Linked DNA regions of Homo sapiens: region 1 is linked to region 2. The links come from fine-mapping of genetic effects on gene expression. A gene starts in region 2. The other region holds a variant in brackets. All regions are shown on one strand. Distances are from middle to middle.

What was found. PIP is the estimated chance that this variant, and not a neighbour inherited with it, causes the effect. A credible set is the group of variants that fine-mapping cannot tell apart.
Region 1: its variant is the best candidate, but not a certain one, in a credible set for the expression of VMO1 in monocytes after R848 (Quach 2016, PIP 0.64).

Annotation. Positions count from the first base shown.
Region 1 is chr17:4,757,498-4,761,887 of GRCh38, reverse strand. No RefSeq gene overlaps it. Among named protein-coding and RNA genes, the nearest start is that of TM4SF5, 12 kb to the left of the region's middle. The variant A/G (reference allele first, on the strand shown) is at 2,700.
Region 2 is chr17:4,784,432-4,788,821 of GRCh38, reverse strand. VMO1 (vitelline membrane outer layer 1 homolog) reads left to right here and starts at 2,458. Exons shown (of 3, transcript NM_182566.3): 1 at 2,458-2,664; 2 at 2,770-2,885; 3 at 3,163-3,537. The coding sequence starts at 2,470. The coding sequence ends at 3,460.

The DNA of each region.
Region 1 (4,390 bases), 27 kb after region 2:
GTATTTTTAGTAGAGATGGGGTTTCATCGTGTTGGTCAGGCTGGTCTCGAACTCCTGACCTCAGGTGATACACCCACCTCGGTCTCCCAAAGTGTTGTGATTACAGGTGTGAGCCACCTGCTTGGCCTATTTGTTAAATATTTAGCATATTTCAAATTTTTTTTTTGATACAGAATCTTACTCTGTCACGCAGGCTATAGTACAGCAGTGGTGTGATCTTGGCTCACTAAAACCTCAGCCTCCTGAGTAGTTGGGACTACAGCCATGTGTCACCACGCCTGGCTAATTTTTTGTATTTTTAGTAGAGATGGGGTTTCACCATGTTGGCCAGGCTGGTCTCGAACTTCTGGCCTCCAGTGATCTGCCCGCCTCGGCCTCCCAAAGTGCTGGGATTACAGGTGTGAGCCACTGCACCTGGCCAATCAATTCTAAGTCACGTGTTTTAGCACATTTTATTTTTCCCAAAATTAGGATATATTGTACAATCCATGGTGTCATACAACATGGTAGGTTTTGCCTACACTTGTGAGAACCCAGTCGTAGCTGTTCGTATTGTTATCACCTCAGCTGAGTTGTGAACCCTACTGGTACTACACTTCTTGAGTTGAATTGCTGTTTATAATGTCTTCAAATAACACACAGTACCAATTACATTAGCACTGTCCCAAATTAAATACTTACATATAAATCTAACAAAATACGTATAAGATCTACATGAAGAAAACTACAAAACTCTGATGAAAGACATCGAAGAAGATATAAATAAATGGAGAGAGTCCATGTTCATATATAGGAACACTCAACATTGTCAAGATGTCAGTTCTTTCCAAATTGATCTGTATCTTCAACACAATCCCAATCAAAATGCCAGAAAACCATTTCATGGATATTTACAAACTGATTCTAAAGTTTGTCTGGAGGGGCGAAAGACCCAGAATAGCCAACACAATATTGAAAGAGAGCAAAGTTGGAAGATTGACACGACCCAGCATCAAGACTTACTACAAAGCTCCAGTAGGGCTGGGCATGGTGGCTCATGCCTGTAATCCTAGTGCTTTGGGAGGGTGAAGCGGGAGGATTGCTTGAGGGCAGGAGTTGCAAGTTACAGTGAGCTGTGATTGTGCCACTGCACTCCAACCTGGGTGACAGAGCAAGACCCTGTCTCTAACAAAAACAAACAAAAGGCCAGGTGTGGTGGCTCACACCTGTAATCCCAGCACTTTAGGAGGCTGAGGTGGGTAGATCCCTTGAGCCCAAGAGTTCAACACTAGCCTGGACAACATGGTGAAACCCTGTCTCTATTAAAAAAAATAAATAAATAATAATAATAATAATAAACCAAAACCGCCGGGCGTGGTGGCTCACGCCTGTAATCCCAGCACTTTGGGAGGCTGAGGGTGGTGGATCACCTGAGGTCAGGAGTTCGAGACCAGCCTCAACATGGAGAAACCCAGACTCTACTAAAAATACAAAATTAGCTGGGCATGGTGGTGCATGCCTGTAATCCCAGATACTTGGGAGGCTGGGGCAGGAGAATCACTTGAACCTGGGAGGCGGAGGTTGTGGTGAGCCAAGATCTTGCCATTGCACTCCAGCCTGGGCAACAAGAGCGAAAGAAACTCCATCTTAAGGGAGAAAAAAAAAAAAAAGTAAAAGGCTACAAGTATATGACTTTCTGGAAAAAAACAGAACTCTGAAGACAGTGAAAAGGTCAGTGGCAGCCAGGGGTTGGTAGGGAGGGGAAGGAGGAATAAACAGAGCACAGAGGATTTTAGGGCAGTGAAACTTCTTTGTATGATACTATATATATACTGGTGCGTCATTATATATTTGTCTAAACCCATGGAACGTGCAACACCAAGAGCGAATCCTAATGTACACTATGCGATGGACTTTGGCTGATAATGACGTGTCAATGTAGTTCACTGATTGGAACAAATCTATCACTCTGGTGCCGGATGTTGATAGTGGGGGAGGCTGTGCATGTGTGGGGGTAGGAGTATAAGAAAACACTATACTTTCGGCTAGGCACAGTGGCTCATGCCTGTAATCCCAGCACTTTGAGAGGCCGAGGCGGGCGGATCACTTCAGGTCAGGAGTTCAAGGCCAGCCTGGGCAACATGGTGAAACCCCATCTCTACTAAAACTACAAAAAAAAAAAAAAAAAAAAAAAAAGAAGAAGAAGAAAAGAAAACTCTGTACTTTCTGCTCAATTTTGCTGTGAACCTAAAACTGCTTTTAAAAAATAAAGGCTATTCAGCCGGGTGCGGTGGCTCATGCCTGTAATCCCAGCACTTTGGGAGGCCGGGGCGGGCAGATCACTTGAGGTCAGGAGTTTGAGACCAGGCTGCACAACATGGCGAAACCTCATCTCTACTACAAATACAAAAATTAGCCAGGCATGGTGACGTACACCTGTAATCCCAGTTACTCCGGAGGTTGAGGCAGGAGAATTGCTTGAACCCAGGAGGCGGAGGTTGCAGTGAGCCGAGATAACACCACTGCACTCCAGCCTCGGTGACAGCAAGCGTGTCTCTAAATAAATAAATAAATAAATAAATAAATAAATGCTATTAAGAAAAAAAATCTTCAAAAAGATAACATGCTTTAAAACAGAAATCAAAAGGAAATGATGTATTAAGCATAGAAATAAAGTAGTGGAGCGAAAATTTGTTAGTGAAGACATCAATTTTGTTGAC[A/G]CTATTTGGTAAAACAAGAATGTGTCACTAGCTTAGAAGAAAATCTCGGAGACAGTAGTGGAGCACTTTTTAAAGAAATTCCGCTTCTCCAATGCCCTCGACAGTAGAGGGGACAGCAACACAGGCACTGATAGAAAGTGATTCAGAAGAGTCAGACTTTAAAGATTTTTTTGGAATATTTTAACCATATTATTTTTGTTTTTGTGTACGCACCAGAATTAGATTTTTTAATGGTCTGAAAGAGACTTCAATTAGCATAAAATAAAAATTGAAGTGTTAAGAAAGCATTGTATCATGGTTTGGCCGGGTGCTGTGGCTCACACCTGCAATCCCAGCACTTTGGGAGGCCGAGGCAGATGGATCACTTGAGGTCAGGAGTTTGAGACCAGCCGGACCAACATGGTGAAATGTCATCTCTCCTAAAAATACAAAAATTAGCCGGGCATGGTGGTGCACGCCTATAGTCCCAGCCACTCAGGAGACTGAGGCAGGAGGATCGCTTGAACCTAGGAGACAGAGGCTGTAGTGAGCCAAGATGATGCCACTGCACTCCAGCCTGGGCGACAGAGCCAGACTCTGTCTCAAAATAAACAAACAAACAAACAAACAAAAGCATGATGTATAACACTTGAAAGTATTTAAGTCAGTGAAATGCAGGATCGAGTACCCTCTGTGTAATGTGCCTAGTTGTGGACCCAGTGGATACAGCACTAAACTTGACAGATGAGGTACCTCTTCGTAGTTTATATTATAGTTTGGGGAGACAGGCAGTAAACTAGAAATTAGAGGTTATGCTAAATTACATGAAGGAAATAGGGTGGTGTGGTAGAGAGTGACTGGGAGGCAGCTACTGGGAGGCAGCTACTCAAGATTTGCTGGTCAGGGAATCGGAACTACCCTTAGACCTGGACAGGAGGGGCTCTTACTTGGCTGTCTGCTTAGTTCAGTACTTCTCAAACCGTAACTTCATACAGATTTCCTGAAGATGGTGTTAAAAGCAGATTCCGGGCTAGGCACGGTGGCTCATGCCTATAATGCCAGCACTTTGGGAGGCCGAGGCGGGAGGATCACCTGAGGTGGGATTGTAGAGGAGAGCAGTGGAGGGAGGGAGACCAGGAATGAGAGTGATGCTTTTCTGAGGACCCATGAATTGCCACTGAAGGTGTTTGGCAATGTGACCTGGGGAGGAGTGGGGGTTGAATGCTCTCTGAGCAAGGCAAGGCCAGAGTTATCAGCTCCTGAGAACTAAGATCGACGTGAGGACCAGATGGAGTCATTAGAAGGGAAACCATCTCAGATGATGAAGATTGTTTGAAATCAGATTTTTCCATAGAAACCCTGCAAATATAGCCCTTTGACATTTCTCTCTTCTTCCTTCTCCTAGCTCAGACTCCTGGAGATCAGGAGACCAGAACTTGTTCACCCTCCTCTACAGTGAGCAGACACTGACATGCCAGAAAAAAAAAAATGCATTTGGCTGTAATATTTGCAAGACCCAAGAAGGTACTGGGAATAAATTTATTTCCATAGAGGAAGTGGTTGGTGTTTTATGAGAAAGGGCACTCAGTCTCAAAAAAAAAAAAAAAAAAAAAGAAAAGAAAAAAAACCCCAAATAGTTAGAAATGCCGAGGGAGACTGTCAGAAATATAATAGTAGTGGGAAACTGTAATATAATTCTCTTCGACAAAGTA
Region 2 (4,390 bases):
ATTTGGGGGATTCGACAGCAGTGACAGATCAGTGCATTTCCCTTCCCTGTAGGGCCAGCTGTAGCAAGAGGCACTCTGAGTATTGGGAAGAGAGGCAGGGCCCAGAACAGCTCCCCTACTGAGCAGTGGTGTGGGCCCTAAATTCACTCTGGGCTTGAGTTCCCTCCACTGTAAATTGAGGATAATAATAGGTACTTTGCAAGCCTCATGTGAGGATTAAATGATAACGTATGTGAAAACACTAAATGGAAAAGCTGACCACAATTGCCCTATAAATCTTATTAAGTTCAAGCATTGTCCGGCTCTGGGATCCAGGGAACACCCACTTCTCTCTCGCTCTCTTTTTTTTTTTGTTTGTTTTTTGTTTTTTTGTTTTTTGAGACAAAGTCTCGCTCTGTCGCCCAGGCTGGAAAGTGCCGGCTAATTTTTACATTTTTAGTAGAGACAGGGTTTCACCATACTGGACAGGCTGGTCTCGAACTCCTGACCTTGTGATCCGCCCAACTTGGCCTCCCAAAGTGCTGGGATTACAGGCGTAAACCACCGCGCCCAGCCGGGAACACCCACTTCTAAATTCTCTATCTTATTCCCAGGGGACTTTGTCTTGACCTGGATACATGACCTCTTGCAATCATATACGTACGTCAGGCTTTATCCTTTTGCATTTTTGTGGTTTAATTTTCAAAACTCCAGATTGGCTCTTCAATCATTCATTGCACCAACTTTTATTAAGTACTTCCGCACGTACTAGGCTTCAAGAATACAAAAGTGCCTTCACAGAGCTCAAGGTCCACTGGGGGAGAATTTATCCTCTGTCTCCCCCACTGGAATGTGACCTCTGATGACAGGGGCCTTGTTATTCTTGCTTACAGCAAGTGGAATATTGCTTAAGCCAAAACATATTATTGCTAAATAGGTATTGAATAAACAAAGGAGTGTGTATGAGGGGCAGGTAAATCTGGGGTTGTGGCCCCTAACAAATTTAGCCAGGCATTTTTAGGCCAGGCACGGTGGCTCACGCCTGTAATCCCAGCACTTTGGGAGGCCGAGGTGGGCGGATCACCTGAGGTCAGCCTGGCTAACATGGCAACACCCCGTCTCTACTAAAAATATACAAATTAGCCGGGCGTGGTGGCGAACGCCTATAATCCCAGCTACTCGGGAGGTTAAGGGAAGAGAATCGCTTGAACCCGGGAGGCAGAGGTTGCAGTGAGCCGAGATGGCGTCACTGCACTCCAACCTGGGCAACAGAGTGAGACTTCGTCTCAAAACAAACAAACAAACAAACAAACAAAAAACATACTTAGCCAGATTTTCTCGCTTTTTGTTTTGCAAATTAGGAGTCCATCTGGTGGTCACAGGGGGAAAGGCATTCCAGGAAAGGATATAAGGATACAGAAAGCAATGGAAGAAACAGCATGATCTTTTCTTAGGGGTTCTTAGTCTCCTGTCCCCAAACTTCTTAGAGTTATTCCTGTTGGACCGGGCGCGGTGGCTCATGCCTGTAATCCCAGCACTTTGGGAGGCCGAGGCAGGCGGATCACAAGGTCAAGAGATAGAGACCATCCTGGCCAACACGGTGAAACCCGGTCTCTACTAAAAATACAAAAATTAGCGGGGCGGCGTCTTGGCGCGCGCCTGTAGTCCCAGCTACTCGGGAGGCTGAGGCAGGAGAATCGCTTGAACCCAGGAGGTGGAGGTAGCAGTGAGCCGAGATCGCGCCACTGCGATGCCGCCACTGGGCGACAGAGTGAGACTTCGACTCAAAAAATAAAAATAAAAAAGAATTATTTCTGTTTGTATATGTCTTCTTCTAAGGTAGGGAGGAGTGTCCCGGATTCTCAAGGTGTTAGGGCCCTGAGCTCTCAGAAGACCTCTCAGAGGAGGAAGAGACTTCTGAGCTGACAGGAGTTTTCTCAGCTTCTCCAGTTCGAGGATTCTTGTCCTATCCTCACTCTGATGTCCCCTCACATCCTGGAGGTCTCTGGGTTGCTCTTGCCCCATCCCGTCACTGGTGGGACTCCCGGGAGGTCACTTCCATCCCTAGCCCTGGTCTCTGCTCTGTCTCCACTCTCACTGCTGGAATGTTTCCCAGCTTGCTTGGCTGTAAACCTAAGGCAAGTTGCTTGCCATTTTTGAGCCAGTTCCCTCATCTACAAAATAGGAAGGATAATTCTCACCCCCCAAAAATTGTTGTGAGGGTTAAACAAAATACTGCAAAGCGCTAACCATAATTCGTAGCCTATAGTAAATATTCAGTAGGTGATGGTTATTTTAATTCGCCCTCTCTCACTGCCCCTCCTACCCTAGCTCTGGGAGCCTCTGCCTCCGGGAGCAGGAAATAGGGTTCCGGGAGTGGATTAGTTTTGGGTTTCACTTAATCTGGGAGGCCCTTCCGCAATCGGAGCCCTCACAGAGGCCAAACTGATATAAATCTGCTTAGGAGGCCTGATTCACAGACGCTACAGGATGGAGCGGGGCGCAGGAGCCAAGCTGCTGCCGCTGCTGCTGCTTCTGCGGGCGACTGGTTTCACATGTGCACAGACAGATGGCCGGAACGGCTACACGGCGGTCATCGAAGTGACCAGCGGGGGTCCCTGGGGCGACTGGGCCTGGCCTGAGATGTGTCCCGATGGATTCTTCGCCAGCGGGTTCTCGCTCAAGGTTGGGGCTCAGGCGTAGGTCCTGGAGAGGGCGGAGATGCGTGGGACCATAGAGCCAAGGATGATAATTCCGTGACTCGCCCTTGCCCCTCTCCTCGATACCCAGGTGGAGCCTCCCCAAGGCATTCCTGGCGACGACACTGCACTGAATGGGATCAGGCTGCACTGCGCGCGCGGGAACGTCCTAGGCAATACGCACGTGGTAGAGTCCCAGTCTGGAAGGTGGGGCGCAGGGGTCGAGGATCCCTTGGGGTGATGGTATGTCCCTTACCCTCTATTACATACTCCGTCGCAACAGGCAGGCTGGCTCCGCCAGAGCTACGGGGCAGTATAGACCGGGGAGGCGAAGGGTGGATGGAAGACCCCTCCTCCGCTCCTCGGCGGAGGTCGGGGAGCACCCAGCCCACCAGGTCATATACACAGCACTTGGCTTGGAAAGTCTCAAGGGCTTGGTGAATGGGGGGCCCGCAGAGGCAACGCATCTCCCTTTGCCTTGCAGCTGGGGCGAATGGAGTGAGCCGCTGTGGTGTCGCGGCGGCGCCTACCTAGTGGCTTTCTCGCTTCGCGTGGAGGCACCCACGACCCTCGGTGACAACACAGCAGCGAACAACGTGCGCTTCCGCTGTTCAGACGGCGAGGAACTGCAGGGGCCTGGGCTGAGCTGGGGAGACTTTGGAGACTGGAGTGACCATTGCCCCAAGGGCGCGTGCGGCCTGCAGACCAAGATCCAGGGACCTAGAGGCCTCGGCGATGACACTGCGCTGAACGACGCGCGCTTATTCTGCTGCCGCAGTTGAACGGCGCCGCCGCCGCCGCTCTCTCCCGGGCCAGGAGGCTAGTCCCACCTCTTGCTATTAAAGCTTCTCTGAGTTGACTTTGGTCTCGCCTGTTTATTTCATTTATTTATTTATTAATTTATTTATTTGAGACGGAGTATCGCTCTGTCCCCCAGGCTGGAGTGCAGTGGCTCACTCGGCTCACTGCAAGCTCTGCCTCCCGGGTTCACGCCGTTCTCCTGCCTCAGCCTCCCGAGTAGCTGGGACTACAGGCGCCCGCCACTACGCCCGGCTAATTTTTTTTTTTTTTTTTTGTATTTTTAGTAGAGACGGGGTTTCACCGTGTTAGCCAGGATGGTCTCGATCTCCTGACCTCATGATCCGCCCACCTTGGCCTCCCAAAGTGCTGGGATTACAGGCGTGAGACACCATGCCCGGCTGGTCTCGCCTGTTTAAGGGATGGGGAACTGAGTCTCCTTTTCCCCTCCTAACTTAGCATTAGGTGAGGCATACATTTGGATTTGGTCTCAGGGGTCTATGGTAGATTGCTGAAAAGTTATGGACTCGAGAAAAACGCACTTAAACAGATAATTTTCAGACAAGTGATGGAAGTCTGGCTTTTTTTTTTTTTTTTTTTTTTGGAGTCTCACTCTGTCACTCAGGCTGGAGTGCAGTGGTATGATCTTGGCTCACTGCAACTTCCACCTCCTGGGTTCAAACGATTCTTCTGCCTCAGCCTCCTGAGTAGTTGGGACTACTGGTACCCACCACCATGCCCAGCTAATTTTTGTATTTTTAGTAGAGATGGAGTTTCCCCATGTTGGCCAAGCTGGTCTCAAACTCCTGACCTCAAGTGATCCACTGGCTTCAGCCTTCCAAAGTTTTGGGATTACCGGCTTGCACCATCGTGCGGGCCCAGGAAGTCTGGCTTTCTGAGAGAGTCTGCAGACA